Linked DNA regions of Homo sapiens: regions 2, 3, 4, 5, 6 and 7 are each linked to region 1. Evidence: fine-mapped expression QTL. A gene starts in region 1. Each other region holds a variant in brackets. All regions are shown on one strand. Distances are from middle to middle. Region 1 holds the start of ITGB1BP1 (integrin subunit beta 1 binding protein 1). Region 2 overlaps ADAM17 (ADAM metallopeptidase domain 17). Region 3 overlaps ADAM17 (ADAM metallopeptidase domain 17). Region 4 overlaps CPSF3 (cleavage and polyadenylation specific factor 3). Region 5 has its middle 2.9 kb from the start of ADAM17. Region 6 overlaps ASAP2 (ArfGAP with SH3 domain, ankyrin repeat and PH domain 2). Region 7 overlaps IAH1 (isoamyl acetate hydrolyzing esterase 1 (putative)).

What was found.
Region 2: its variant is fine-mapped to the expression of ITGB1BP1 in whole blood (TOPMed, PIP 0.94).
Region 3: its variant is fine-mapped to the expression of ITGB1BP1 in whole blood (TOPMed, PIP above 0.99).
Region 4: its variant is fine-mapped to the expression of ITGB1BP1 in pituitary (GTEx, PIP 0.93).
Region 5: its variant is fine-mapped to the expression of ITGB1BP1 in blood mononuclear cells (TOPMed, PIP 0.96).
Region 6: its variant is fine-mapped to the expression of ITGB1BP1 in whole blood (INTERVAL, PIP 0.98).
Region 7: its variant is fine-mapped to the expression of ITGB1BP1 in whole blood (TOPMed, PIP 0.95).

Annotation. Positions count from the first base shown.
Region 1 is chr2:9,421,648-9,425,715 of GRCh38, forward strand. ITGB1BP1 (integrin subunit beta 1 binding protein 1) reads right to left here and starts at 1,881. Exons shown (of 7, transcript NM_004763.5): 1 at 1,726-1,881. CPSF3 (cleavage and polyadenylation specific factor 3) reads left to right here and starts at 2,007. Exons shown (of 18, transcript NM_016207.4): 1 at 2,007-2,176. The coding sequence starts at 2,127. RefSeq lists enhancers at 332-1,190, 1,184-1,233, 2,104-2,153, 2,194-2,243 and a silencer at 1,374-1,673.
Region 2 is chr2:9,549,933-9,554,000 of GRCh38, forward strand. All of the region lies in intron 1 of ADAM17 (ADAM metallopeptidase domain 17), which reads right to left. Among named protein-coding and RNA genes, the nearest start is that of ADAM17, 3.9 kb to the right of the region's middle. The variant G/A (reference allele first, on the strand shown) is at 1,991.
Region 3 is chr2:9,490,641-9,494,708 of GRCh38, forward strand. It overlaps ADAM17 (ADAM metallopeptidase domain 17), which reads right to left. Exons shown (of 19, transcript NM_003183.6): 15 at 3,997-4,068; 16 at 3,107-3,185; 17 at 2,258-2,346; 18 at 461-511. It also overlaps a transcript of IAH1 not described here. Among named protein-coding and RNA genes, the nearest start is that of IAH1, 18 kb to the left of the region's middle. The variant T/C (reference allele first, on the strand shown) is at 2,375.
Region 4 is chr2:9,463,088-9,467,155 of GRCh38, forward strand. All of the region lies in intron 15 of CPSF3 (cleavage and polyadenylation specific factor 3), which reads left to right. Among named protein-coding and RNA genes, the nearest start is that of IAH1, 9.4 kb to the right of the region's middle. The variant G/A (reference allele first, on the strand shown) is at 2,480.
Region 5 is chr2:9,556,675-9,560,742 of GRCh38, forward strand. No RefSeq gene overlaps it. Among named protein-coding and RNA genes, the nearest start is that of ADAM17, 2.9 kb to the left of the region's middle. RefSeq lists a silencer at 1-80. The variant G/C (reference allele first, on the strand shown) is at 2,075.
Region 6 is chr2:9,299,524-9,303,591 of GRCh38, forward strand. All of the region lies in intron 3 of ASAP2 (ArfGAP with SH3 domain, ankyrin repeat and PH domain 2), which reads left to right. Among named protein-coding and RNA genes, the nearest start is that of ASAP2, 95 kb to the left of the region's middle. RefSeq lists an enhancer at 129-628. The variant C/T (reference allele first, on the strand shown) is at 1,627.
Region 7 is chr2:9,478,330-9,482,397 of GRCh38, forward strand. IAH1 (isoamyl acetate hydrolyzing esterase 1 (putative)) reads left to right here. Exons shown (of 6, transcript NM_001039613.3): 3 at 1-41; 4 at 2,957-3,118. Among named protein-coding and RNA genes, the nearest start is that of IAH1, 5.8 kb to the left of the region's middle. The variant A/T (reference allele first, on the strand shown) is at 1,829.

The sequences.
Region 1 (4,068 bases):
CTGCACTCCAGCCTGGACGAAAGAGCGAGACTCCGTCTCAAAAAAAAAAAAAAAAAATTATTCATGCATCAAAATGAGGCCAATGATCCTGATTGGCGATTGGATGCTCCGCAGGCTCATCAAATGCAAAGATGTCTCAAGCTGAACCCATCATCCTCCCCTCCAGATCTGCTCCTCTCCTCTCCTCTCCCTGTCAGGAGATTCTATTATTGCTGGAGGAAGCCAGAAAATCATGATTTCCTTGCTGTCCTTCAGGCCCCACATCCAATCTGGCACCAAGACCCACTGTATACCCCACCTGAAGAGCTCTCTGAGCCAGCTCTCCACCAGGGCCCCCGTCATCCTAAACCATGGGCACAGACACTATTTTTTTAGAAACTGATGAATGTGATGGATCCTCACCCTATAAAAATGCACATCCATACAAAGTTTGGCATGAATTTAAGGAATTCACAAACCCAAGGATATTTCGTGGATAAGGGACCTTGTCCTACTGGATTCCCTAACACTTTAAATCTACCCCCACACTGCAGCCAAAACGATTAAAATGATTTCTTTCAAACATGAATCTAATGCCACTAGCCTGCTGAAAATCTTTCACTGGTTCTCCAAAGTCAGAGACCAAAGTCAACGTTCTTCAGCACGACACGCCAGGTCCTCCAGGACCCAGCTCCTAATCACCTTTCCACTTCCATCCTCCACAACCCGGGCACAGTTCATTGATCTCAGCAAGGCAAAGCTGCTCCTGGTTCTCAGCGCGATGCTCCACGCGCCCCTGCTTTGCACCGCCCGGGACGTCCTTCACCTGTCAGGCACTTGGCTACTTCTTACCTTTCAAGGCCCGTTTCAGGCTGCAGGCCTTCCTGGGATCTCAAGGCTGGGGTAAGGGACCCACAGCTTGAGTGTACCCCCTGATCACAGCGCCACGATCTGCTGTGGTCTCTGATCTCACTCTCCCAGCTGCACGCTGGTCAAAGGCGGAGCTCGGTGACTCCTCTGCATTGCCAGGGCGCCTGGCAGGGGACGCGCTTACTGAAGCCGAGAACTTTCTGGGGAGGTGACACCCCAACAGCGATTCCCATGTACCAAACGCCTACCACGTGCCATGCACGGTGCTAGGTGCACAGATCCCTCTCACCCTCACCCTCACCGACCAGCAAGGCTGCAGGATAACAGCCCCTTTCAAACGAGGATGCCAAAGCGCCCGAAGAGTCAGTGACCTGCCCAGGGTCACCAGAGTAAGGACGGATGCGGCCAAGCTCGGGGCCTAGGGAGAGCCGGCTCCGAAGTTCCTCCCAGACGCCAGCCTGCTTGGCACCTGTCTGTCACCGTGATGGAGCACCTTCCAAGCGCTGGGTGCGGAGGATGTGACAGCGAAGGGGACAGACAACCCCGACCCTGAGAGGCGGGAGGCGGCCGAAGCGGGGCAGAGGAAGAGGCAAGGAAACGGCCCGCGGCCGCCCGCCTTGCCGCCCCTCCGGGGCGACAGCGGCTCGGGAAGCTGCAGTCCGCAAGCCCACGCCCGATCTGCGTGGTTCCAAGCTCCTCCACCCGCGCCCCGGGAGCGCGGCCCCGCCCGGAACCAAGCCCGAGCCCAGGCATCCCTCCTCCGCCCGCCCCGCGGCCCCACCCATCCTTCCTGGCCGTCCGCGCCGCTCTCGGGACCGTGTTCCCGTCAGGCCTCCGCGAGCTCGGCCCCAAGCGGGACGAGGGCTGGGCGCTCACCTCGCAGCCGCGGGCCCATCCCCGGGTTGCGGACTTCGGGGTCCGCGTGGGAGTGCCGCGGCCTTTGGCGCCCAGGCAGCTACTCCCGTTCCCGCTCCAGCGCCGGCTTTTCCAGCCCTCCTGCCCACGTCCGCCGGGCCGCGCCTCCAAGACTATGCGCAGGCGCAGTCCTGACGTCCTACCCCCGGTTCCAAGACCCCAAGTGGTGGGAAGCCTCGCGAGCGGCGTCCCCCGACCGGAAGTCGAGGGGAGGAGTCTAGTGCCGCGGGCTCCGGAGTGACGGAAGTTGTGCTCTTGGTGAATGGGGTTCTTCCTTTTTTATTTACCGGTGGCTGTGCTTCCAATTTAGGAAGACCCCGGCGACCTGTTCCTCACCCCCGCTTCGCCCTCACACTTTCGGGATGTCTGCGATTCCTGCTGAGGAGAGCGACCAGCTGCTGATCCGACCCCTGTAAGGGACCAGCGAGAGAGGGAATGAAGCCACGGGCTGTGAGGGGCGCGAGGGGTAACCGGAGACTGGCCTCCTCCGTCGCCCGCGCTCCCACCTACCCCGGCAGCCTGCCTTTGGTCCGCGCTTGCGGGCCAGGCTTCTCAGGCTCGAGGGGTTGGAGGACCGTTGATCGGAAGGGGCCTGCTATAGAGTGAACGGGATTTTGCTTTTTCATCAGTTTCAGGGGAGGGTATGTTGGAGTCGGAAAAAAAAAAGTTTTACGGGGCCACCGCTCGCTTTCGTACACGCTAAGAAGCGTTTTCACTTAGCACAAGCACGGATCTCTGCGCGTCAGGGCAAGCTGTGAGGGAGCCGGTGAAGCTTATGACCGACAGGATGAGAGGAGGACCTGAATGAGGCTACAGCCGTGCAGGGAAGAATTAAGTCTGTTTCTTAACACCAGGGCTTCACATGTGCCAGAAGTTAGAAAATATTAGGGACTTGCCGTGAGTTTCGATCTTCTCAGCTCAGGCCCTAGTAGAATAAGGAAGGTGTAAAGCTGGAGAAGAGAAAGTGCAGAGGTGTTAGGGACAAAAACTCAGCCCTCGACTGTCCATAAGGAGAGTGGCCTTTCAGTGGACACGATCCTCATCAGTCGGGAATGCTGCTGAAGGGGAGATGCAAATGTAGAGAACTTGAATTCCTACAGATGAGCATTTCGAACCCACAACATGTTTATTGTTAGATACTAGTTGGCACAACATGAATATACGCTTTCCAAAAGGTAGAAAGTATCTCCTTTACACAATCATTCAGTAAGGCTTCATTGAGCACCTGCTTGGGACATAGTCCGTTTCCTTCTGCTTAGTTCACACCTGTCATGTCTTCCTGTGATGAGCAAACACTGAGCAAGTGTCAAGCACCACACATGGGGATATAGACGCAACAGAGGGCCCAGTTAATTGCTCTCGCTCTTTTGGAGAGAATTACAGTGCACAGTGGGAAATATTGGAGAGATACTTTGGAATAATAGGAGACTATTACTTTGAAGTCAGACCTGAAGTCCATTATCTACTTGACCAATTAGTAGGACAACAATCTCACTGAACCCGTTTTCTCATATGGAAATAAGATAAAACTTGAAGAGTGAACATCGCGGTAGGTGCTTTGTAAATAATAGCTAATCTAAGAACGCAGGCAGGCATTGCACTGAGCACTGTGAAAGTATGGAAAAGGGATTTCTGACAGATTGAGGAAAAAAGGATACCTCGTGGATCCTGAAAAATGTGATGCCTGAGCTGAGTCCTAAAGAATGAGTAGGAGTTAAAGACTGGGGGGCCCAGGATGTTCTAGGCAGTGGAAGTGGCACATATGAAAGTGAGAGTGGTCACAGCTTGTGGCCAGATTCCTCATGGCTGTAGCTAAAGAGTTGAGTTAGCAGATGAAGCGACAGGCAGTTGAGGTCCAGTTTAGGAAGCACCTCGTATACACAGGAGTTTGGACCTTTATCAAGTCAATTACAGGGAGCCAGCGAAGGCTATTAAGCAAGCATGGATATTGTGGGAATTATGTTTTAGGAAAATCTCTCCTGGCAGCAGTGTAGCAGATGAATAAAAGCATGGATGAATAAAAGCATGGATTGAGTAGAGCAGATTCAGTGAGATATTGAAAGATTCTAAGTCTAGCTGACGAGAGCCTGTAGTGAGTGATGTGAGTGTGAGAGAGTATGCAAATGAGATCTTCAGGATTTTGTGGCTGATCAGCTGTATCTGGAAGGGTGGTTGTGGGGAGGGAAGGCAGGGCAGAGAGGATGTTATGATCAGATTCCTAAGTTTGGCAGTTGGGAAAGGGTAGTGTTATTCACTCAAGGAGTATAAGAGATGGGGCAACTCTGGAGTAAATTTGGGAATTTG
Region 2 (4,068 bases), 130 kb after region 1:
TGCTGCATGAAGTACGAAAAGTTCCCCCAAAATGACACTATCAATGTCATGCTCCTACTTCTGATATCAGAAATGGAAAACATAAAGCCAGTACTGCTGTGAAGTGTTTATTGTGTTTGTGCTGAAGACACAGGAGCCTTCCTCTTCAGCACCCCCCAAAACACACAGGACAGGGAAGCAGGCCACGTGTAGTAAGTGTCAGGTGCGGGTTGTTGGGACTAAGGAATGAGAAAAAGGGAGCAGTGCTCTCTGCTAGGCCAGGGACCCCAGAGCCTGGGAACTAAACAATTTTATGGATTTATACCAGTAAAGGAGGATAGAGTATGAGCTGCTTCAACTAATTCCCTATCAAGAGCTCCTCAACAGACCTGGGACGTAACCTGAGCCAAGACTCTCCAGCAAGACCAGTAACCAGGATGCAAGTTTCAGGTTAGGCAATGAGACTACTTCCACAATTACCAGCAGCCCTGCCTAGTCCTAGGCTAAACCTGTATCCGATACTCATTCTTTTTTTTTTTTTTTTTTTTTTTTGAGATGGAGTCTCACTCTGCTGCCCAGGCTGCACTGCAGTGGCTCAACCTTGGCACACTGCAACCTCTGCCTCCCGGGTTCAAGCAATTCTCCTGCCTCAGTCTCCCCAGTAGCTGGGATTACAGGCACGCACCACCACGCCTGGCTAATTTTTGTATTTTTAGTAGAGACAGGTTTCACCATGTTGGTCAAGCTGGTCTTGAACTCCTGGCCTCAAGTCATCCGCCGGCCTCAGCCTCCCAAAGTGCTGGGACTATAGGTGTAAGCCACTGTGTCCAGCTACTCATTCTTGTAATCAAAAGAATAGGTAACTGGCTGGGGCAGTGGTTCACGTCTGTAATCCCAGCACTTTGGGAGGCTGAGGCAGGTGGATCACCAGAGGTCAGGAGTTCAACACAGGCCTGTCCAATATGATGAAACCCCATCTCTACTAAAAATACAAAAAAAAAAAAAAAAAAAAAATTAGCCAGGCGTGGTGGGGGACACCTGTAATCCCAGCTATTCGTGAGGCTGAGGCACGAGAATCACTTGAACCTGGGAAGTGGAGGTTGCAGTAAGCCAAGATTGCGCCACTGCGCTCCAGCCTGGGTGACAGTGAGACTCTGTCTCAAAAAAAAAAAAAAGGTAACTAATTTTGGACATGTTATATTTGAAGTGCCAAATGGGCAGCTGAATATGAACTCCAGAGAACAAGTCCAGGTCAGAGATACACGTCTAGTCATTAGCAGAACACTGTCAAATGAAGTGAAACCAGTACAACTCATGTAACAACAAAGAAAAAAAAAAAAGGAAGGGGGGGAACGGAGAGATGCCCATTTCCTTGGCTGATTTTAGGAGTAAATAAAGAGATACAGATTGAGCATCCCTTATCCAAAATGCTTGAGACCAGAAGTGTTTCATTCATCAGAATTTTTTAAATTTTGAAATATTTGCATATACATAATGAGGTATCTTGGGGATGGGACCCAAGTCTAAATATAAAATTCATTTATGTTTCATTTATTCACTTACTTTGAGATGGAGTCTTGCTCTGTCGCCCAGGCTGGAGTGCAGTGGCGCGATCTCGGCTCACTGCAAGCTCCACCTCCCAGGTTCACACCATTCTCCTGCCTCAGCCTCCCGAGTAGCTGGGACTACAGGCGCCTGCTACCACACCTGGCTAATTTTTTGTATTTTTAGTACAGACAGGGTTTCACCATGTTAGCCAGGATGGTCTCGATCTCCTGACCTCGTGATCCACCCAGCTCGGCCTCCCAAAGTGCTGGGATTACAGGCATGAGCCACCGCGCCTGGCCTAAACAATATTTTTAAGTAACTTTTTTTGCATGAAAAAAAGTTTGTGTACAACGAAGCATTCGAAAGCAAAGGTGTCACTGTCTCGGCCACCCACATAAATAATCTGTGGTTGTCTGGCATCACCATCATTCCTGACTGATTTTACATGCTACAATAAGTAATC[G/A]TTTTGTTATACCTATTCACACATAAGTACTACACAGTAAAAAATATACCACTAACAGTGAAAAAATCGTGTGTTAGGGGTAATGTGTGCTGTCATGCCAGCATTCAAAAAGTTTCAAATTTTGGAGCATTTCAGATTAGGGATGCTCAACCCATATATGAAAAGCCTTTCATTTCACTTCCGTTACCTCAATGAAGCCCATTCCTGTCCTCCTTTCCTATCAATCTTTTTCAGACTTTCTTCACATTACACTTCCAGCTGTATACACTTATTATCTCACAAATAGAAAATGGTGAAGGATCCAAAAATCAACCACAATTGGCCTTGGAGGAAACCTATATTTAATGTTCTAGGAAATCCTGTGAAAGTCAAAAGGATCTCTCCAGTTTCCCCATCACAATTATCTGCTTAATTCCTCTCCATTCTACTCTTGAAATATGGTTTATCTCTTAGACTAATATAAAGCAGAGTTACATTAAATCTCCCTTGGAGCAGTTAGGGCAGTTAAGCATTTAGGTTTCAAAGGAATGCAGCCAGTAAGCAAAATTAACATCAAAAGAGAAAGCCAGATGTCAAAATACTGAGTAAAATGGTGCTGTCAATAATGAAATCAGCACTGCAATATGGAGAATCCCCATGCCAATAACCTCAAGGTAAATTTGAAAATACATGTTTCAGATACAAACTTTCTCATCCCTCATCTGTGACCTATATTTTTTCCTCCCACCCACTACATCCTCTTTTATTAAAAGTAACACAAAGGGAAAACGATTTTGAAATCAAAGTGAGACTTATACACCCCAGCTGCAACTTCAACAAGATATCATCATGACTAAGCTCATATGACTCATAACTTTCCTAAATTATGCAATTCATAACAGTTCAATTGAAATCATTTTTGGTGACCCATAGAGGACTCTAAAAACCAGGCTTCATTTTATTAGGTATTTTTTGCCTTTCAGAAAAATGTTGTCATATGCCTAATCGATATTGAGTACTGCAATATAGTAGTATTTGTAGGACAATAAACATAAAAAATAAATAATAAAGCATGTTTTTCAACTATGAAACTATTTGCTAGTCTTGACCAACTCAATCTAATGGTAAGGTTAAGTAACAAATTATATTGTAAGCTGTCAAACAAACTGAAAAAAAAAGTCATTCTTCAAAAGAAAAATACCCACAAGGCCTATGTTCATCATTGACAACTGACAGCATCTTCCTGAGACTCATTTTCCTCCTCCTTTATTTGAAAACTAGACTTGATCTCTAAGATTCATTTGGTGATAACACTTGCTATAACGTACTCTAGCACTCTCCTCTATGCTGTTTTAGAAGTGTCCTAAATGAATGTCTATTTCCCTATGCTATAACCATTTGAAGATGGATATCGTCTGATCTTTGTATTTCCAATGCCACGTATAATACTTGTGTGTCCTTCAAATATTTCGTTTAAAAAAAAAAAAAGAGGCCGGGCCTGGTGGCTCAAGCCTTTAATCCCAGCACTTTGGGAGGCCGAGGTGTGCTGATCACCTGAGGTCAGGAGTTCGAGACCAGCCTGAATAACATGGAGAAACCCCATCTCTACTAAAAATACAAAAAATTAGCCGGACGTGGTGGCACATGCCTGTAATCCCAGCTACTTGGGAGGCTGAGGCAGGAGAATTGCTTGAACCCGGGAGGCGGAGGTTGTGGTGAGCTGAGATGACGCCATTGCACTCCAGCCTGGGCAACAAGAGCAAAACACTGCCTCAAAAAAAAAAAAAAAGAAAGAAAAAGAAAAGAAAAGAAAAAAGAAAAGTCTATGCATTCTTCTGGCACAGGTGGTCTGCATTTTGCAAATAAAAAACAAACACATGGGCCAGGAGCGGTGGTTCATGCCTGTAATCCCAGCACTTAGGGAGGCCCAGGTGGGCGGATCACGAGGTCAAGAGTTCTAGACCAGCCTGGCCAACATGGTGAAACCCCGTCTCTACTAGGAATACAAAAATTAGCTGGGCGTGGTGGCACATGCCTGTAATCCCAGCTACTCAGGAGGCTAAGGCAGGTGAACTGCTTGAACCCCGGGAGGCGGAGGT
Region 3 (4,068 bases), 69 kb after region 1:
TGCTAGGTGAGGCTCACTCAACCTAAGTGACTAAAAAATACTAGGTTGGTGCAAAAGTAATTAATGCCATTACTTTTAATGGCAAAAACAGTAATTACTAGCTTTCAAGCATCCTGAAAACTTACTTACCATTTGAAGACCCAAAAGAGGATTCAAACCTCTCAAGGTAAGATCCCAAGAGAGAAATTGAACTCAAAATATTAACTAAGTGTTGAATGGCTAAATCACTCCTTATGGCTTGGGAAGGGGACAGCACAGCTCTTTAAATGTCCATCCATGCAACTAATCGAAGTTCACCATCACTGTTGTCAGAAGGGTAAACATTCCAACCTAGACCCTTCCTGCTGCAACATGACCTTCCATCAGCCAGTGAAAGCTCTTGCTGGGTCAGGTGAAGGTCTTTGCCTAACAGGGCCTCAGACCAGGCGAAGATTATGTTTCTTTCATATGGTATACTTACACTGGGGTGAAACAGAGACAGAGATTCATACTGTTTATCCAATTTCTTATCCTAGAAAGAAACAGCAAGAAGGTCATTCCCTACAAATACAATTCAGTTAGTGAGTACTATTTCATCACAGGCTATTCCTAACACTAACTGAAGAACTTAGAACCTGAGTTGTAGAAAGTGATAGCAGGCTCAACAGATGACAATCCATTTCTCACCCAAGCTTTAGTTATGCCACCAGTCTAGAAGTGTTTCCTTTGCACTCAAAGGAAATACATTTTGGCGTTAAGTACAGAAAGAGGCAAGGTTTAAGTGCTATGTTTTCTGAGAAATTTATCCCTCTGTGGGCAGGGGAATAATAAAGGCATCTTCCTGTGCATGAAATGACAAATGTCCCAGATGCTGGGTACACCAGGACCGCACTGACTGGAAGGGCAACTGGTAGGAAGACCCAGGTGGCTGGGCCTGCAGCATTCTTCGCACTGCCCCGGCCCATGGCCTCACTCTCTTAGCTGTCTCCACAGTTTCTGTGGACCATGCTCTGCTGGAGGAACTGGGCCTCAATCCCTACATCCTACTTCTGCAGAAGGCTAACCACATGGCCATCTGCTGCCCCATCCCTGCCTGTGGCTGAAGCATAATAGGTGACAGAGGGCAAGGACCAAGAATCCAGGACTAGGCTTCCTGTCTGGGTGCCATCAATGCATTCTATGACCAAAAACAAGCCATGGCCCTCCCTCCTATCGGAGGCTTTGCTCTGAAATCAAGGGTCGTGCCTTGTCCACATGTGCAACTTCCCTGTAAACAAAATAGGTTCCATCCTCCAATAGAAGCAATCGTGATGGATGGCACTGTCATCCAGAGACATCTGTCAAAGCTTCAAGCACGTCACCTTCAGCTTTCTTCAGCACAAGTGCTCCCTAGAGATCTTCCTATACCCATCATGCTCACCACCCTGAGGAAGAGCTGCTCTGTGAGATGGCCCCTAGGCAGGAGAAGCCAGCAGGAAAGGAAAGGAAGGAGGCAGTAGGAAAAACTCCTTTGTCATCAGAGTTGTGCTGGAATTTTTAAATGCTCATAGGAAGGCCACTATGAAAGAGTTTGGGAAAACAAGTCTGGAAGCCTGGGTGTGACTTTCTCATCTCTACAGCAGACAAATCCCCATTCCCCACAGATGCAAGTGAATGGATTCGTAAGAACATTTATGAAAAAGGGCCTCAAATTTATAAAGGACCAGGAGTTCCTTAGTCAAAGCCCAATTCAACTTGTAGCTGTTACTGATTCTGAATGAGAACAGAAAAGACTGCTTACTCTTATTTTTTGGGGAAGATGTAAATACTCTATATGACAGCTGGGCCCCAGTCCCTACATCCTATTTGTGCAGAAGGCTGAAGACATAGCCATCTGCTGCCAATAATCTACATGATATATGGGGAACATCTGAAATGCCGATGTTTGATATTTGCTCTATTGCAACGAAGTCAGCCTGAAAATGCTCTTCAATAAGGGCTTTACTCATCAAAGGACCTGGACAAATCCAGTTAAACAGTCTCCTATGCTTAAAAGTATAAAATTCCTAAGAAATTTATATATTAAAACACCAACACACAAAAATAGTATTTTTTTTAAAAGACCATTAGTTAAGCTTTCTACAAGACATGTTCCCCTAGGAATAACAACAAAAAAAGCTATTGGAAATATCAGGCCAAACTTTGCTAAGAACAAGTTTTACCTTTTCCAGAGATTACATGGTTGGAGTTGATCAAAATTTAAATAAAACATTTAATTACTTAAAAGTTGATGACTTACCACACAATGGACAAGAATGCTGAAAGGAATCCAAAATATCAAGGAGAAAACCAGGACAGACCCAACGATGTTGTCTGCTAAAAACTTTCCTGTGAACAATTCCAAACAGTTAATGTC[T/C]TGACCAAGTACTTCACAAATCTAAAGTGAAATGCTCTTAGGATATTACCATTGTGTCAAATGCCAGAGCTGCTGGCTAGACATACTACCGAGAGCAGAATGTCTGTGCTGCCTGTATTACACCACACCATCTCTCCATACCAAGTGCTTTTAAAGAAATAGCCCTCATATACTGGCTGACAGGAAGAGATTGCAGAATATTCAACATGTTACCTGGAGTAGCTGTGTCAACAGATTAATATGGAATGCTACTACTAGTAAATGCTTAAGAAGACAAAGTTTTTGTTACCTGGATATTATTTTTGTGATTAAATTATGGACTCGTGACAACATGATATACCCTGCTTCTGCAAAATATGAGGCTCACTTTTACATCAAGCAGGATTCAGTATATAGCATTCAGTCAAATAAACACTCTTACATCAATCAGGATTCAGTCTATAGCATTAAACTATGCTTATGCTAATCACATGGATATTTTTGGGTAAAGAAGGAAGCCAGTATTTTGACTTTATTTCCCTTGTCAGAAAATCTGTGCATCCAAGCTCCACGGGGACAGACTATCTATGAGTTCATTTTATTCTAGCCAACAAAGTTGTTTCATAACTAAAGCTGTGAATAGTTCCACCTTCTACTGCAGAATTAAAGCACATCACTCTGAAAGCACACTTTTCTAATGTCATCACAGAAATTGACTCAGCTCTCAGTAAGTAATCTGGGGAAATCACCTACCAAAAGTATTGATGCTCAGCTGGTCAATGAAATCCCAAAATCGTTCAATTACATCCTGTACTCGTTTCTCACATTTGCCCTATGAAGAAAAAACATACATACAGCATCATTCCCAAACACAATGTATTCAGAAGCAATGTAGCTTTATAAAAATAACTGACATGTAAAGGGCTTCATTAAAATCAAACGTTTTCCCATCTTTGACACAAGGCAATAACTTCCGCGTAATGAGTACCCAAGAAAGTAGAACATCTGTCATTAACACTTTCATAATTACTCCATTTTTACAAGTGATTTAGAATTACCAGGAGACAAAAATCAAGGAAACCAGTTTGCTAAAGATGAGGCATTCCAGTAAGGACTCTACACATACACAGTGGACAGTGAACAACACAGCCAGACTCCCTGTGAAGCCTCGTAAATCTTAAAACCCTCTCCCATCATTCTGCATGAGAAAAATTATGCTTCTCTAGAGAACAAAAGGGTCTGGCTTAAGTAAGTCAAGCAGCCTTCTAGGTCTTTCCTACTCATTCAGCACCTGTTTCAAAATCACACCCTGAATAATTTTGCAATCTTAGTCAGTTCTGTAAGTAATCTAGGAAAACATAATTAGGACCCACTGCCTGAAACCAACCAACTTTACCATAAAGTCCCCACCCCAGTCCTTCTCAGTCTCTGGGCTCAAAGCCTCCCACCACAGAAGGAAACTACAGGCAGGGACCTGAAAGCACTCCGTCTTCTCCTCCTAAGTAATACCCGTAGATAACAATGGGCCAGAAGGATGTAGCCCCACTTGTGTTTTGATTTGTTTTCATCTGCAAAATCAAGTACTTACAAAATAAAAACTTCCTATCTGGCTGTTACAGAAAAAGCTGTACATAAATACTCACATTCATGTCACAAAATCCTACTGTACAGGGCTTTCCTTTCCTCAAAAATAAGTTCTTTTGTTCAGCATCGAC
Region 4 (4,068 bases), 41 kb after region 1:
TGCCCCCTCCAAGGATCTGACATTCTGGCATGTCCCAGGGCTTCCTGATAGGGTTTGGAGTTGGGCAGATCCCATAGGGTCTTGTTGGCTATTGTAAGGACCTCAGACTTTCAGTGTGAGTAAAATGAGGCTATGCTGCAGAGCTTTGAGCGGGGCTGAGACAGGATCTGACGGAGTTTTTAAAGGACTGCCGTGGTGCTTGCTGAAAGTACTGTTAGGAGGGCAAGCAAGAAAGCAGAGGCTCCAGCTGGGAGCTTCTTCAGTCATCCAGGTGGCAGACAGTGGCTCAGATTAGGGTGGAAGTCATGGGGATATCGCAAAGTGCTGGATTCTGGAGGTGTTCTAATAAAGCCAGCAGTATTTCCTGTTGGATTAGCTGTAAGTGGTGACAGAAAGAGAACAGACAGGATGAACTTTAAGATAATGATCCAGGGTATGTATGTGATATGTCAGCATGGACAGTTGTCACTCGTGGGGCTAAGTGACAGGTTTTAATAAGTAGCACTTGCTCCTTTCAAAGGTGACAAGTATTGCAAGAACTGGTACATGTGACACTTATGCTGCTCATGAGGAAGTTGATTCTGTATATTTATTATTTATCGAACTGACTTCTTCCTATCCAAACTTGGGATTTTCACATTTAGAGCAGAGTCAGCGACTGTGGCCCACAAGCCACACCTAGCCCGCCTGCTTTGGTAAGTATAGTGTTACCGAAACACAGCCGTGCGCACTGGTTCATCATCTCTGATGCCTCTTTCCTGCTACAGCAGCAGAACTGAGTCATTGCAACAGCGACCCTGTGGTTTACAAAGCCTAGAATGCCATCTGGCCATTTACAGAAAAAGTTGCCCTCTTCTCAAGGCACCTCTGTGAAACAATCCGATTCTTCCTTGATGGCATTTTTCTCCCTTTTCATTTCTTAGCCTCCTGACACTTCAGTCCAGATTCTGGAAACACAACTTGTATTTGTATCTGTGGTGTATGTGTGTGTGTGTGTGTGTGTGTCTAACCAACCACAATTTATGTGTCCCCATTCTTAACCAAAGGGGAAATCTTATATATTTTCAAAATACATTATTTTGTTTTTATATTCCATAACATTCTTCTATTTTACATGGCACCTGTTTTCAGCATGTGTGTGTCCTGTTTTGACACACAGACCTACTAAGGACAGGTATACCTGTCTGATTGTATAGTTCTGTGTTTAATATGATCTCGTGTCTGATGAGTTTGTCTAAATATTAATGCAGGAATTTGCAAATATATATATACATATATATACACACGTAAACTTTGGAAAGTTTCTTTTGATAGTTTCATAGCCTAGATATTTATTTTGTAATATATTTTGTGAGATTGTTTTTACATGTCAATTAAGTGCTTATTTTAGTAATTAATGAAACTAATGATTATAATTAAAGTATAAAATTCTGTTATATAGTTTTCTTGGCTAGCACCTGGTTAGTTTTTTGTTTTTGTGTTTTTTTAATATTTTTATTTTTATTTTACTTTATTTTATTTTTTGAGACAGGGTCTCACTGTGTCGCAGACTTGAGTACAGTGGTGCAATCTCAGCTCACTGCAGCCTCGACCTCCTGGGCTCAAGTGGTCCTCCCACCTCAGCCCCCACAAGTAGCTGGGACTATAGACGCACATCACCACGCCTGGCTAATTTTTCTATTTTTATAGAGACAGGGTTTCACCATGTGGCCTAGGCTAGTCTCAAATGCCTGAGCTCAAGAGATCTGCCCACCTTGGCCTCCCAGAGTGCTAGGATTCCAGGTGTGAGCCACTGCACCTGGGCTTACTATTTTTTTTTAATGGAGATGGGGTCTTGCTATGTTGCCAAGGCTGGTCTCCAACTCCTGGGCTCAAGCAGTCTTCCCTTCTCAGCCTCCCAAAGTGCTGGGATTACAGGCGAGTAGTTAGTTGTATATACAATTGAAATTCACGAATTAAAAAGAATTAGATGAAGTATGGTTTGAATTCTAGAATAGTTTAGGAGAAATGACAAGTTGAGTCTTTTCCGTAGAGTAGATTGAAATAGGTATGTGGGAGTGCAGAAGTGAGTTAATAAAGCTACACTTACATGATACAATATTTTAAAAAGTCATAGTGTTACATGAGAAAGTAATTACTTGGGCTGGGAAATTGAAAGTGCATTGAAGAAATCATAATTTTTGAAGTCTCTTTGAAATGACAGAGTCTTAGCCAGGCACGGTAGCACACACGTACAGGCCTAGCTACTTGAGAGGCTGAGATGAGAGGATCACTTGAGCCCAGGAGTTCAAGGTTACAGTGAGCTATGATTGCACCACCGCACTCCAGCCTGGGCAACAGAGCGAGACATTGTTTCTAAGGGAAAAAAAGAAGAAAGAAATTACAGTCTTATATTATATTTTCCTGTTTATAGGTGAGGCCATAAGATTATTTCTGGTATTTTCCCCCATATCATACACACACACACACACACACACGC[G/A]CGCGCGTTTATATATAAAAAATATATAAAAGAGGAAATTGGTTATGTATATTTATTATTTATCAAACTGACTTCTTCCCATCCAAACTTGAGATTTTCACATTTGGGCCAGCCCAGCTTTCAACTCTTAAGGCCCCCCATCCTTCTAAGAGCTCAGCTGGCCTTCACTTCCTATCTTAGTCTGTTCAATCCCAATCAAATGCCACCAAGGTTGCCTTCTCTTCATTATATTCTGATAGCCCTTTTGTAAAGTGAAGTCTGTTATGAACATGAAATGAAATGATGACAATATCCATATATATGGGGTGTGTGTGTGTGTGTTGTCTGAAGGATTTTAAAATTCTGCACTACTCTTTGTAACAGCATTATTGATACATAATTCACATACCATACAATTCATCCATATAAAGTGTAGAATTCAATGATTTTTTAGCATATTCAGAGTTGTACAACCATCACCACAATCAACTTTAAAACATTTACATCACACCAGGCCAGACATGGTGGCTCACACCTGTAATCCCAGCACTTTGGGAGGCACAGGGGAGCAGATTGCTTGAACCCAGGAGTTTGAGACCAACTTGGGCAACATGCTAAAACCCTGTCTCTACACGCACACACACACGCGCTCACACACACACGCGCACACACGCACGCACACACACACGTGCGCGCACGCACGCGCACACACGCACACAAAGACGCACGCACACACGTGCGCACACAGACGCATGCACACGCACACTGACGCACGCACACAGACGCACGCACACACGCGCGCGCGCGCACACACACACGCACACACCCACGCACTCGCACACACGCGCACACACACGCACGCGCACACACGCACACGCGCACACACGCGCACACACACAAAATTAGCTGGGCATGGTGATGCATGCATGTAGTCCCAGCTACCTGGGAGGCTGAGGTGAGAGGATCACCAGAGCACAGAGGTGAAGGCTACAGTGAGCCGTGATCATACCACTACAGTCCATCCTGGGCAACAGTGCAAGACCCTGTCTCTAAATAAATAAATAAATAAATGCACACCTCCGAAAAGGAACCCCATATCCCTTACGTATGATGCCCCAATCTCTATATTCTCACCAACTCAAAGCAACCACTAATCTACTTCCTGCCTCCCTGGATTTGCCTGTTCTCAGCGTTTCAGATAAATGGAATCATACAATATATAGCCTTTGATGACTGGTTTCCTTCACTATGCTGTGTTCAAGTTTCATCCGTGTTGTCACATAAATTGGTACTTCCTTCCTTTTTATGGCCAAATAATTTCCCATTGTATGGACACAACACATTTTGTTTATCCATTCATCTGTTAATGGATACTTCGGTTGTTTCTATTTTATGGGTTTTATGAATAGTGCTACCGTGGAGATTTGGATGTAAGTTTTTCTGCAGACATATGTTTTCATTTCTCTTGGATCTGTACCTAGGAGTAGAATTACTAGGTCAAATGCTCACTGTTTAACTTTCTGAGGAAGTGCCAGACTGTGAGCTCTGCACTCTTTTGCTACTGTTGATGCACTGAGTTGTTGAATGAGGGGTCAGAGCATGCCTGAAAC
Region 5 (4,068 bases), 140 kb after region 1:
TCCCAAGGCAGTTTGTTTTGCAATCTTTTGCATGATTTTAGCTCTGTATAGTTTAGTGAATGTTTATGGTACTGAATAAAACAGTCTAAAAACGTTGGGTACATGTTGCTGTTTTATTTAGTTCAACCAAAGTTTATAAAAGTAGGACATAATACGTTTTCCACTTAAGAGTGAGACAGCCTTTATTATGAAACGGTAAATTGTTAGGAATACTAGTCCTATTCAAGTTTCAAGGCTTATTCCTAATAAAATACTCAAACTGTGGTTAAAATTTATGTTAATGGTGGTTTGCCGCAGTAAAATATCAGCGTCTTTTTCAACAATACATTGTTGGCTAAAATTAACCGGACCTGGTCTGTACATCTGAAGTATAAAATATCTTTATTAAACATACCCATTAGTGGCATACCTAGTCAAAAAGTAAGCAGAATTTCACATGCAAATTGTATACAATCTGTAAAAATTGTATTCCATAAGAATGTGACAGTTGAGTACGGTTTTTGGGGGGCTTTTTTGGTGTACCATAATAATGTCATCTGGTTTCTTTTCTGAACATCCAGTCACCATAATGTCCGGCTTGTAACTTTAGTAGATCGTAGATTGTATTATTTTGGTATCCCCAACAGCTCTTGTACAGTGCCTTGCTCATAGAAGGTACTTAGCTGTTTAGTAAATGCCGTTTAAAAAAAAAATCCCGATCCATTTTCTTTTCTTTTTTTTGGGGGGGGGTGGTGGGGGAAAGAGTTTCGCTCTTATTGCCCAGGCTGGAGTGCAATGGCGTGATCTTGGCCCACTACAACCGACTGAACACCTCCTAGGTTTAAGCGATTCTCCTGTCTCAGCCTCCCAAGTAACTGGGATTACAGGCGCCCGCCACCACGCCCAGCTAATTTTTGTATTTTTAGTAGAGATGGCATTTCACCACGTTGGCCAGGCTGGTCTCAAACTCCTGACCTTAGGTGATCCACCCGCCTCGGCCTCCCAAAGTGCCAGGATTATAAGCGTGAGCCACCGCGCCTGGCCTGAATAACCAGAAGTCCTAGATTTCCAGGGACATTCCAAATTTCAAGTAATCTTTTCAATTCACAAATCAGGACCCAAATTATTCCAATTTGCAGTTCATCTTTCATTTATCAATTGTGCATACTTTTAAGATAAAAGAGCACCACGTGGGGGAGATAAAGAGCCAAAGGAATATGGTAAGAGGGGCACTGGATAGATTAATTAGTTTATCTTTTTTTTTTTTTTTTTTTTTTTTTGAGACGGAGTCTTGCTCTGTTGCCAGGCTGGAGTGCAGTGGCATGATCTTGGCTCACTGCAGCTTCTGCCTCCCAGGTTCAAGGGATTCTCCTGCCTCAGCCTCCCAAGTAGGTGGGACTACAGTTGTGCGCCACCATGCCCAGCTAATTTTTGTATTTTCAGTAGAGACAGGGTTTCACCATGTTGGCCAGACTGGTCTGGATCTCCTGACCTCGTGATCTGCCCGCCTTGGCCTCCAAAGTGCTGGGATTACAGGCATGAGCCACCGCGCCCGGCTCTTTTATCTTTTGAGACGGTCTGGCTCTGCAGCCAAGGATGGAGTACCGTGACACAATCACAGCTCACTGCAGTCTCGACCTCCTGGGCTCAAGCAATCCTCCAGCCTCACCCTCCTCAGTAGCTGGGACCACAGGCATGCACCACCACACCTGGCTAATCTTTACATTTTTTTTATAGAAGTGGAGTCTCGCTATGTTCCTCAGGCTGATCTCAAACTCCTGGCCTCCCAGAGTGCTGGGATTACAGGTATGAGCCACTGCACTCAGCACCAAAATAATTTTTTAAAACTATATACCCCCTGGCCAGACGTGGTGGCTCACACCTGTAATCCCAGCACTTTGGGAGGCCGAGGCAGGCGGATCACGAGGTCAGGAGATCAAGACCATCCTGGCTAACACGGTGAAACCCCGTCTCTACTAAAAATACAAAAAATTAGCCAGCGCAGTGGCACGTGCCTGTAGTCCAAGCTACTTGGGAGGCTGAGGCAGGAGAATCACTTGAACCCTGGAGGTGGGGGTTGCAATGAGCCGAGATA[G/C]CGCCACTGCACTCCAGCCTGGGCGACAGAGGGAGACTCCATCTCAAAAAAAAAAACAACTATATACCCCCTAGGTGTATCTTTAAAGTTTTTCATCATTAGCGTAGTAGTAGCAAATTATGAAACTTTCAGCATAAATACTGACATTTAAAATTAAAGCTGTTAGGTCATTATTTTAAAGTTTTCCAATAGAGTATAAATACCTCAAAGATTTGACAGCCACAGTGGTAGCCCAGCCTCCAAGATGGCCCCCAATGATGCCTGCTTCCTCTTCTACACTGGGCCATAGTTGGTCTGTGACCACTAGCATGCAGCCGAAGTGATGTCACTTCTGAGGTTAGGACACAAGAAACTCTGTCCTCCATCTCAGGTGCTCTCTTGCTTGCTTGTTTCCTCTTGAATCACACACTCTGGGGGAAGCCAGCTTTCATGTCATGAGAACACTCAGGAAAACTATGGAGAGGTCCAATAGAACAGGTCAGCAGCCAACAAACACCAAGGAGCTGCCAAAGACTATGTGAGTGAGCTTGGAAGGAATTCAGCCCCAGGCAAGCTTTAAGATCACTGCAGCCCCTGACCTACCATCTGACTATAACTAAGCTACTCCCAGATTCCTCAGCCTCAGAAGCTGGGAGATAAGTGTTCGTGGTTCTAAAGCTCCTAAATTAGGGGTAATTTGTTACACAGCCACTATCATCTGTTCAAAAAAATACGTAAACAAGTTGATGGGATCCTGGGTTCTTAACACCTGAAGTGATGCTTTTAATTTAGGATTTAATAAAGATAATTAAAAATATTTCCTGAGGTTCCCCAATCCCATGCTGTGGAATTAATTATTCATAATTTAGATACCGCAAGTGAATTTAAGAGTAAACATTTGCAGTTATTAAACACATGAGCCACATATGGTTCTGCAGTTAACTACCAAACCCACACAAGTACCAGTAAAACCTTGTCTAAATGACCAGAGAACTAACTGGTTCTGGCTGGGTGTTTTGTTTCCTTCTATCTATTTCTCTAGCTCTATTTCTCTTATTAGCCAATTTTGTCTTACACCAACCCCACCAGTTTTTATAGATGGATAGAGCCATCCTCACTGTTTCTAAAATGGTAATTATTCCTGCATTTGTATGCTTTTTTGCTGATGAACAAATCTGTGGAAAGCAGTCGCTTTAAGTATGAGTCAACCCACAAATAAGACAACAGATGCCACTTAATGAAAAATAGGACTTTATACAAAGTCATGTGCCAAGAACTCTAATTTCTAAGGTTTTGGTTAAGAAATTTTAACCCATTTTAGAAAAAATCAACCTTTTTTTTTTTTTTTTTTTTGAGACGGAGTCTTGCTCTGTCGCCAGGCTGGAGTGCAGTGGCGCGATCTCAGCTCACTGCAACCTCCGCCTCCCGGGTTCAAGTGATTCTCCTGCCTCAGCCTCCCGAGTAGCTGGGACTACAGGCATGCGCCACCACGCCCAGCTAATTTTTGTATTTTTAGTAGAGACGGGGTTTCACCATATTGTCCAGGATGGTTTCAATCTCTTGACCTCATGATCCGCCCACCTCGGCCTCCCAAAGTGCTGGGATTACAGGCATAAGCCACCGTGCCCGGGCAAAATCAACCTTTTAGAAAAATGACAAATATGCATGGGACAAAGCAGAGACATCTGCAGATCCTCACTGATGAACAGATGATTTTGGGGGGAATTTTTTTTAATTGTTATAAAGTCTCCTTTCTTTCTTTTTTTTTTTTAGAGACAGGGTTTCACCATGTTGCCCAGGTTGGTCTCGAATTCCTGGGCTCAAGCGATCCACCCACCTCGGCCTCCTAAGGTGCTAGGATTACAGGTGTGAGCCACCACATCCCACTGATATGAACCACCATTGTGTGCAGAAGTATCATACATCCTACATATTGTATGCCACATAAAATATGGAGCTGTGTCTGTTCTTTTCCTTCTTAAATCCCTGCCTCTCTCCCTTGAGATCTCGGGGTA
Region 6 (4,068 bases), 120 kb before region 1:
CAAGAAAGAAGAAATTGAGAGTCAGGAAACAGGACCCAACACAGGAAAGCAAGCAGTGGAAGGGAATTCCAAGAGGATCATGGCGAAGGGAAGTCCCAGCGGGGCTGCCAAGCAGGGGGCCTAGAAAGCAGCCAGCCCAGGACGGCTGACGACGTAGGAGACGGGTGGAGGCCCGGGTTCTGCTTCTCACTCCCAGACTGCCCTTTTACCTTTATTCAGCTGATATCTAGACCTGGATTGTCTCAGCTGTAACATGGAGATAATAATACCATACCTGATTGTGTGGATAGATTATAGCCAGCCGGTGACTCTTACACAGGATAGCTTACTTAATTCTTATGACAATCCCATAAGGTCAGTCAATGTCATCCCCACTTTACAGATTAGATAACTGAGGCCCTGAATGGTTTGAAGAGCTAATATCTGGCCCGGCACAGTGGCTCACATGTGTCATCCCAGCACTTTGGGAGGCCAAGGTGGGCGGGTTGCTTTGAACCCAGGAGTTCAAGACCAGCCTGGGCAACATGGGGAACCCCTGTTTCTACAAAAAAATACAAAACTTAGCCAGGCGTGGTGGCTCACGGCTGTAGTCCCTGCTACTCGGGAGGCTGAGGCTGAAGAATTGCTTAAGCCCAGGAAGCGGAGATTGCAGTGAGCTGACATCACGCCCCTGTACTCCACCTGGGCGACAGAGAGTGAGACCCTGTCTCAAAAACAAAAGAAGCAGCAGCTAATATCTCTCTTGGGAGGCTCAGAGTCCTTGCCTAGGCAGGCCCACTTGGAGCACTCCACACCATGGAATCCGGACGAAACTAACTTGTCTCAGTTAACAAAAGGGCAGCTGCATAGTTAAATAAAAGGAATCCCTCCTTCTCCTTTATAAAATTTCCTGCAAAAGCAGAAAGCAGAGCAGGGCCTGCATGTTACAGCTGGTACATTGCTCACCACCCTGTGGCTTTGCCAGTTTTTAATACTTCACATATCACTGCAGGTCCTAGTTGCTGTCCAGCTTTCTACAGAGAGTAAAGGTATCAATAAAGGTATCTGTGGCAGTGATTTGATGAGCACCCACCGGTGTAGCAATCACTGGGCTATGCATGAAGGATACTCTGTTTCATTTATTCCTCTTGGCAGCTGTGCAGGATAGTTTGTATCACCATCCTCTTAAGGCACACAGTCACTTACAGGGCCCTTAGCTAGTGAGGGACAGAGTTGGGATTCAAACCCAGGTATTAACACTCCAAACCCAAGTTGTTGTCATTGTGACATTTAAAGGAACCATGGCCTCTTGTCACCTTCTTGACTGATCATAAGGGTTCAAGTTTCAACTTGCACTTTATGGAAGTCGGATTGTTGATCCTATTTCCTGGCAAAGATCAAAGAGAGAGAAAATTTCTTACATGAGCCAAAATTAGCACTCACCATGCCTGGTTTTCCAGGCCAGCGCCGGTGTGGAAGCTGCACAGCCAGAGGAAGGCCCAGTGGCGGCTCCTGCAAAGCTGGGCAAATGGGGAGCGGATTATGGCGGAAGTCTCCTTTTTTGGAATTTTGTGCACCATTCTTCTTCCTGTTTTTGGTCACATCTGGCTTATCTCATATCTTCCAAGCCTTGCTTTTGCTTTCCCT[C/T]GGGCATTTAAAACATTTCAGTTCTGTCTGGCTAAGACTCACAGTGCTACCTCTTGTCCAGAAAGAATAACAATTACCACCTACCTGCTTGGAGGCGTGAAAGAATGTTTATAAAGCAGTTGGAAGATCTCCAGAGAAATGCCAGCTTAATATAAAGCAAGATTTTCTTACTAATGGGTGAGATTCTCACCTGCAGAAGTCTGTGAATTTTCTCTGCGGTGATGCAGGATGAAAGGGAAAACCAGACGGCTCCAGAAATGTGACATGTGTGAAATTAAAGTGCTTATGAAGTCAGCCTAGTTTCAGGGGTTCTTTTCCTCTTCCCCAATGGATGTGAGAATCCTGGAAAGACTCCAAGGGCCACCTCTGTGCTGAGAAGTGGCTTTCTAATGAAAGGCTGCATTTCAGGGCAGGTTTCTGAAAGGTTTGTTACAGATATGTAGTCTCTGTCTCCAGTGTTAGAGGATTGTTAGTGAAAGATGTCCTCACGGTCTGCAGAACCCGCTCCACATGAAGATCAGCATCCATTGAAAGCAGGAGCCAATGGGTGCTGAGGAGAGGACAGAGTTGCAGCATGAGATCTGAGGTGACCCTGGGCTAAGGAGTTTTCCCTCACCCATGTTGATAGAGGAAATGGAAAGCTCTACCAAGCAACGTGTGTATCCATCATCTTTTTTTTTTTTTTTTTTTTTGAGACGGAGTCTCGTTCTGTTGTCCAGGCTGGAGTGCAGTGGCACAATCTCAGCTCTCTGCAAGCTCTGCCTCCCAGGTTCATGCCATTCTCCTGCCTCAGCCTCACATGTAGCTGGGACTACAGGTGCCCACCGCCATGCCCGGCTAGTTTTTGGTATTTTTAGTAGAGATGGGGTTTCACCACGTTAGCCAGGATGGTCTCGATCTCCTGACCTCGTGATCCACCCGCCTTGGCCTCCCAAAGTGCAGGGATTACAGGCGTGAGCCACCGCGCCCGGCCTTTTTTTTTTTTTTTTTCCCAAACACAGATGATGTGAGTTAGAAGCCTTTTTTTTTTTTTTTTTTTTTGAGACGGAGTCTCGCTCTGTCGCCCAGGCTGGAGCGCAGTGGTGCAGTCTTGGCTCACTGCAGCCTCTGCCTCTCGCGTTCAAGCGATCCTTCTGCCTCAGCCTCCCGAGTAGCTGGGACTACAGGCACGTGCCACCATGCCCAGCTAATTTTTATATTTTTAGCAGAGACGGAGTTTGACTGTATTGGCCAGGCTGGTCTTGAATTCCTGACCTCGTGATCTGCCCACCTCGGCCTCCCAAAGTGCTAGGATTGCAGGCATGAGCCACCATGCCTGGCCAACTTTTTTTGTTTGTTTGTTTGAAACAGAGTCTCACTGTGTCGCCCAAGCTAGAGTGCAGTGGCACGATCTTGGCTCACTGCAGCCTCCGCCTCCCGGGTTCCAGCTATTCTTGTGCCTCAGCCTCCCAAGTAGCTGGGATTATAGGCGCGAGCCACCACACCCAGCTAAGTTTTGTATTTTTAGTACAGACGGGGTTTCTCCATGTTGGCCAGGCTGGTCTCGAACTCCTGACCTCAAGTGATCCACCCGCCTGGGTCTCCCAAAGTACTGGGATTACAGGTGTGAGCCACCACCTGTAATACCAAAGTACTGGGATTACAGGTGTGAGCCACCACGCCTGGTCAGAAGACATTATAGCTAACCTTACTAGGGAGGTAGTAAGGTTCTGTTGGGACAAGCAGTAGTTTGTGGCTTTCTCATATGTGCTGCACCTGGCAGAGGGGCATCCTGGCTTGGCTGCATTGGTACTAGTACAGCAGGACTCTGCCCAGTGCTGTCAGGCTTAGGTTAAGTGTGAGCTGATTGTCCATATTAGTAAGGCTTGTCTCGTCACTCAATATAGACATCTTGCTACCAGAGGTCCTCACCCTCAGTACTTCCATAGACTTTCTCCTAACTTCTTGTATTGCAAATGTCTTAGATTCTTAAATGTCTTACTTTGTTTTTTAATTAAACAAGAGCAATGATCATAGTATCATCTTTTTGGGAGGAAGATTTAAGTCACTGTTTTAGACATAAACTAATGAACTATGCTGAAATCTAGAGACATCCCCAGTGGCTTGGGGTACGTGGGAATATCCGCCCTTGGATTAGTCCTGGACTATTATTAGGTGTCCGTTTCTGACATTTGCTTTTTAATATTCTGACACTTTTTCTATTGGTTGCCCTTTTTCCTGCTGTCAGTGCTTGGGTGCCTCTAAGGTCTCTGTTTCACGATGCTGCGAGCTGAAGAGCAAGGTGACTTGGCTTGTTAGACTTGGGTGCAAATTAGGAGTCCATAGGCTTCGCTTGAGGAGGGCTTGAGGGCTAGGGCTTTGAGTGAGGAGGGGAGAGAGAGTACCTTGATGGACTTGCTGACAGTCGCTTTGGGCCCCTAGAAACCTCTGCCATTTAGATTT
Region 7 (4,068 bases), 57 kb after region 1:
AGTTACAATTTTCTTTGGGGCCAATGACAGTGCACTAAAAGGTAAAAGCATTTTTGATGTTCTTCTAGCTCACTTTTAATCATTTTTATGTTACAGCAAACTTGCATTTAATATACTTTTTTCAACTGTTTACTTTCTCCCAATAGATACAGTTTTGCCAAACTTATGTTGTTTATATGTATTCCTGGCTTTAACACTGGTGGATTTTATTCTTGACTCAGTTTCTACATACCTTGGTTGCTGGCAGTCCTAATCTTGCAAACAGTTAAATATTTTCTAGAGTCTGTTAGTGCTATGCTAAGTTTGTAATGTGTTCTCTTTAGTTGATGCATTTGGCAGCAGAAAGCTTAAGGATACCTTGTGGCTTGCATCACACTGATGGCAGCTGGTGGCGTGTCTTAGGGAGGGATATGTCAGGGCAGCAGCCACCCTGACCTCAGTTAGGCTTGAATCCTGGGCAATGGTGAACGTGGGTTTGGAAAAGGAGATGGTCTCTCCTTGACTGCTGAAGAATTGCTGCTGTGACTAGAGGAAAGCTAGCCATGTAAGAGGCCTTTCTTCCCCTTCTACTCTTGAAAAAAGCCTTCTGCGTGCTATCGACGAGAAAAATCAGCCTTTGTTTTGGGAAGTTAGGTAGTCACCTTCCAGAGATTTCTTTTGTTACCCTACTTGTGTCACAGAAGTGCTGTGGTCTGCTATTCACGGGCACACCGTAGGAGACCTCTGAGTTGAGGCTGGACATGAAGGAACACCAACTGCAGTAAGAGGAATTCTTGCTCTCTAGGAGAAAGATTACGTAGATGACAGGTATCGGTGGAGACTGCACACTAACCATTATATTTGGGAAGAAATTAATCTTCACTTTCTATCTTGTACCAAAAACCATAAGAAAACTCAAAACAGAATTTTTTAAAAAGATAAATTTTTATCAAATTTAGCATAAGGAAAAAACACTTCCTAAGTATAAGAGCAGTGGAGGAAGCCACAGAGGAAAAACAGGTTTATGAAATAAAATAGGCTGCGAAAAAACTGAAGAAGAAAATGATGTGTTAAGGAAAATATCTGCAAAATGTGGCAGACAAGAGAGTAATGTCTTTAGTGTAGAAATCAATAAGAAAAATACCAACTCCAATAGAAAATGTAGGCAAAGGACAGGAATAGATAAAAGGCGAAATTTAACAGCAAATACATATTTGAAAATGTGTGAAAACTTATCAAAAAATGCCAATTAAAACAAGGTATTTTGATTTTTTGACTCAGAAAAGCAATATGAAGCAGTAATACTTACAGCTGACACGCATGAAATAAGATTGGAACTCTTACATTCCTGGTGAGAGAATAGCTTGTGATCCTCTGGAAAGCTGTGTGGCAATATGCGCCAAGGGACGGCCCACGTGTAGAAATTCAACCTAAGGAAATATTCAGATACGCAGCCAGATGTGTGTGCGGAGATTTCTGTGTATTGCTTTTTTTTTTTTTTTTTTTTTTTTTTTTTTTTTTTGACAGTTTCACACTCTTGCCTAGGCTGGAATGAAGTGATACGGTCTCGGCTCACTGTAACCTCCACCTCCCAGGTTCAAATGATTCTCCTGCTTCAGCCTCCCGAGTAGCTGGGATTATAGGCGCTCGCCACCACGCCTGGCTAATTTTTGTATTTTTAGTAGAGACAGGGTTTCCCCATGTTGGTCAGGCTGGTCTTGAACTCCTGACCTCAGGTGATCCACCTGCCTCGGCCTCCCAAAGTGCTAGGATTTCAGGCATGAGCAACCGCACCTGGCCGTGTATTGCTATTTATATATAACAGTAGATTACAAGCTGTACAGTACGG[A/T]AACATCATGTGGTCACCCTACAACTAAATTTCATTTTTTTGCAAACTATTTATGGACACAGAAAAGCTCATAATATGTTATGTGAGCCAGGCGTGGTGGCTCATGCCTGTAATCCCAACACTGGAGGCCAGGCCAGGAGTTTGAGACCAGCCTGGGCAACAGAGTGAGACTCTGTCTCAATAACAACAAAGTTTGCCTAGTGTGGTGTTGCGTGCCTGTAGTCCCAGTACTTAGGAAGCTGAGGTGTGGGAGGGTCGCTTGGCCCCAGGAGTTCAAGGTTACAGTGAGCTGTGATCACACTACACTCCAGCCTAGGTGATGGAGCGAGAACCTGTCTCTAAAACAATTTGTAGAGAAAAGCAAAATATGAAGTCTTCAGTGTGAATATAATCTTCAGTGCAAACTCATTTTTTTAAAAGTGTATGTATCTTCATGAAAAGACCGGAAAGATATACATCCAAATGCCAACAGTGGTTTTCTGGGTGGTAGGAACATTGGTGACTTTTTTCCTTTATACTGTACTTACATGTGGTTAGCAAATGGTAAACAATGACCCTTGTAATACTTCAGTGAGAGCCTATCTAGAAAATACTCCTTTGCAATAATAGTAGTATTCGTGGGTGCCATTTGTTTAGACTGAGTGCTTGCTTTGTGAAGGCACACTGCTCTCAGTGCTGTAAACTCTTAGCTGTTTTGATTTTCAGTCCTAGGAGGGAGACCTTATTATCTTCATTTTCCCAATGAGGTACAGAAAGTCTAAGTATTTATCTGCGGTTCTGTGGCGAGGAGTGACAAAGCCAGGATTTGAACCTAGGCCGTCTCACCCAACAGGGTGGGCTCTTTAATTTCTTTACAAATTCAACCTAATTGATGTAATAACCATCTGGATACTAGTGACGAAAAGACAAGAGTACTTACGGTGCCCCTAGTTAGAGCCTTTGAAGTCTTGTTTTATGAAGAACTATACATTTTAATTCATAAGGAGAAAACCTTCTCTTTGTGTCCTTGGTGTTAAACAATCCCCCCAGTGACATCATGAATAACAGGCATTTGCAGAAGTGTGTTCACCTGAATTGTCACTTATAATAAATATGCATCTGGTGAGGACTCATGTTTCTCTTGAGCAGATGAGAATCCCAAGCAGCACATTCCCCTGGAGGAGTACGCTGCGAACCTAAAGAGCATGGTGCAGTACCTGAAGTCCGTGGACATCCCTGAGAATCGAGTCATTCTCATCACGCCGACCCCACTTTGTGAAACAGCCTGGGAAGAACAGTGCATCATACAAGGTAAACAAACCACAGCCAATCTCGGCAAATCTGGATAGGAATGCTGAGGGAGGAACTCTGATAGGACAGTGGTTTCCTGCCTGGGGCTTCTGTTTCTTAGGGGCTCGGTATGTCCATTTCAGTCTGTTTTCAATCCAAAATTATTAAATTATAGCTTCCATTATGTTATACCTGAGACCTTTTTTGACCTAGAAAAGGGATTCTGGCTTTGGATAGTCAGGAGGGAACCGCGGGCCTGGCATCTGCTGACCTTTACAGTTACCAGACTCCAGGGTGCACATGAAGGCCACTGAGATCTGTGTAGAGCTGTGGTGCTCGGCCTGCGGGGGCTGATGCTGATGTGCCTTGACTTGGAAGTCCACACCTGGGGCTTTTTACTGGTCCACAGAAGCTGGGGGTAGGAATGATCAGATAGGAGTCGCCAGCACTCCATATACTTGGGTTTCACATCCCTCAAGTGCTGTGTTTTCAATCCACCTTTGACTGAAAAACCTCTGCACATAAGTGGACCTTCACGGTTCAAACCTGTGTTGTTCAAGGGTCAGCTGTATGTTAATGTTGAAAATGTGCATTATGGAAGTTCTCTTTTTTTTTTTTTTTTGGAGATAGAGTCTGGCTCTGTCAGCCAGGCTGGAGTGCAGTGGCACGATCTCGGCTCACTGCAACCTTTGCCTCCTGGGCTCAAGCAATTCTGCCTCAGCCTCCTGAGTAGCTGGGATTATGGGTGTGCACCACCACGCCCGGCTAATTTTTGCATTTTTAGTAGAGACGGGTTTCACCATGTTGGCCAGGCTGGTCTCGAACTCCTGACCTCAGGTAATCTGCCCGACTCAGCCTCCCAAAGTGCTGGGATTACAGGCGTGAGCCACCGTTCCTGGACTGGAAGTTTTCTAAGCTGCCCAGAACTCAACATTCTAGGACAAATGACTGGCTTTGCAACACAGAACAGC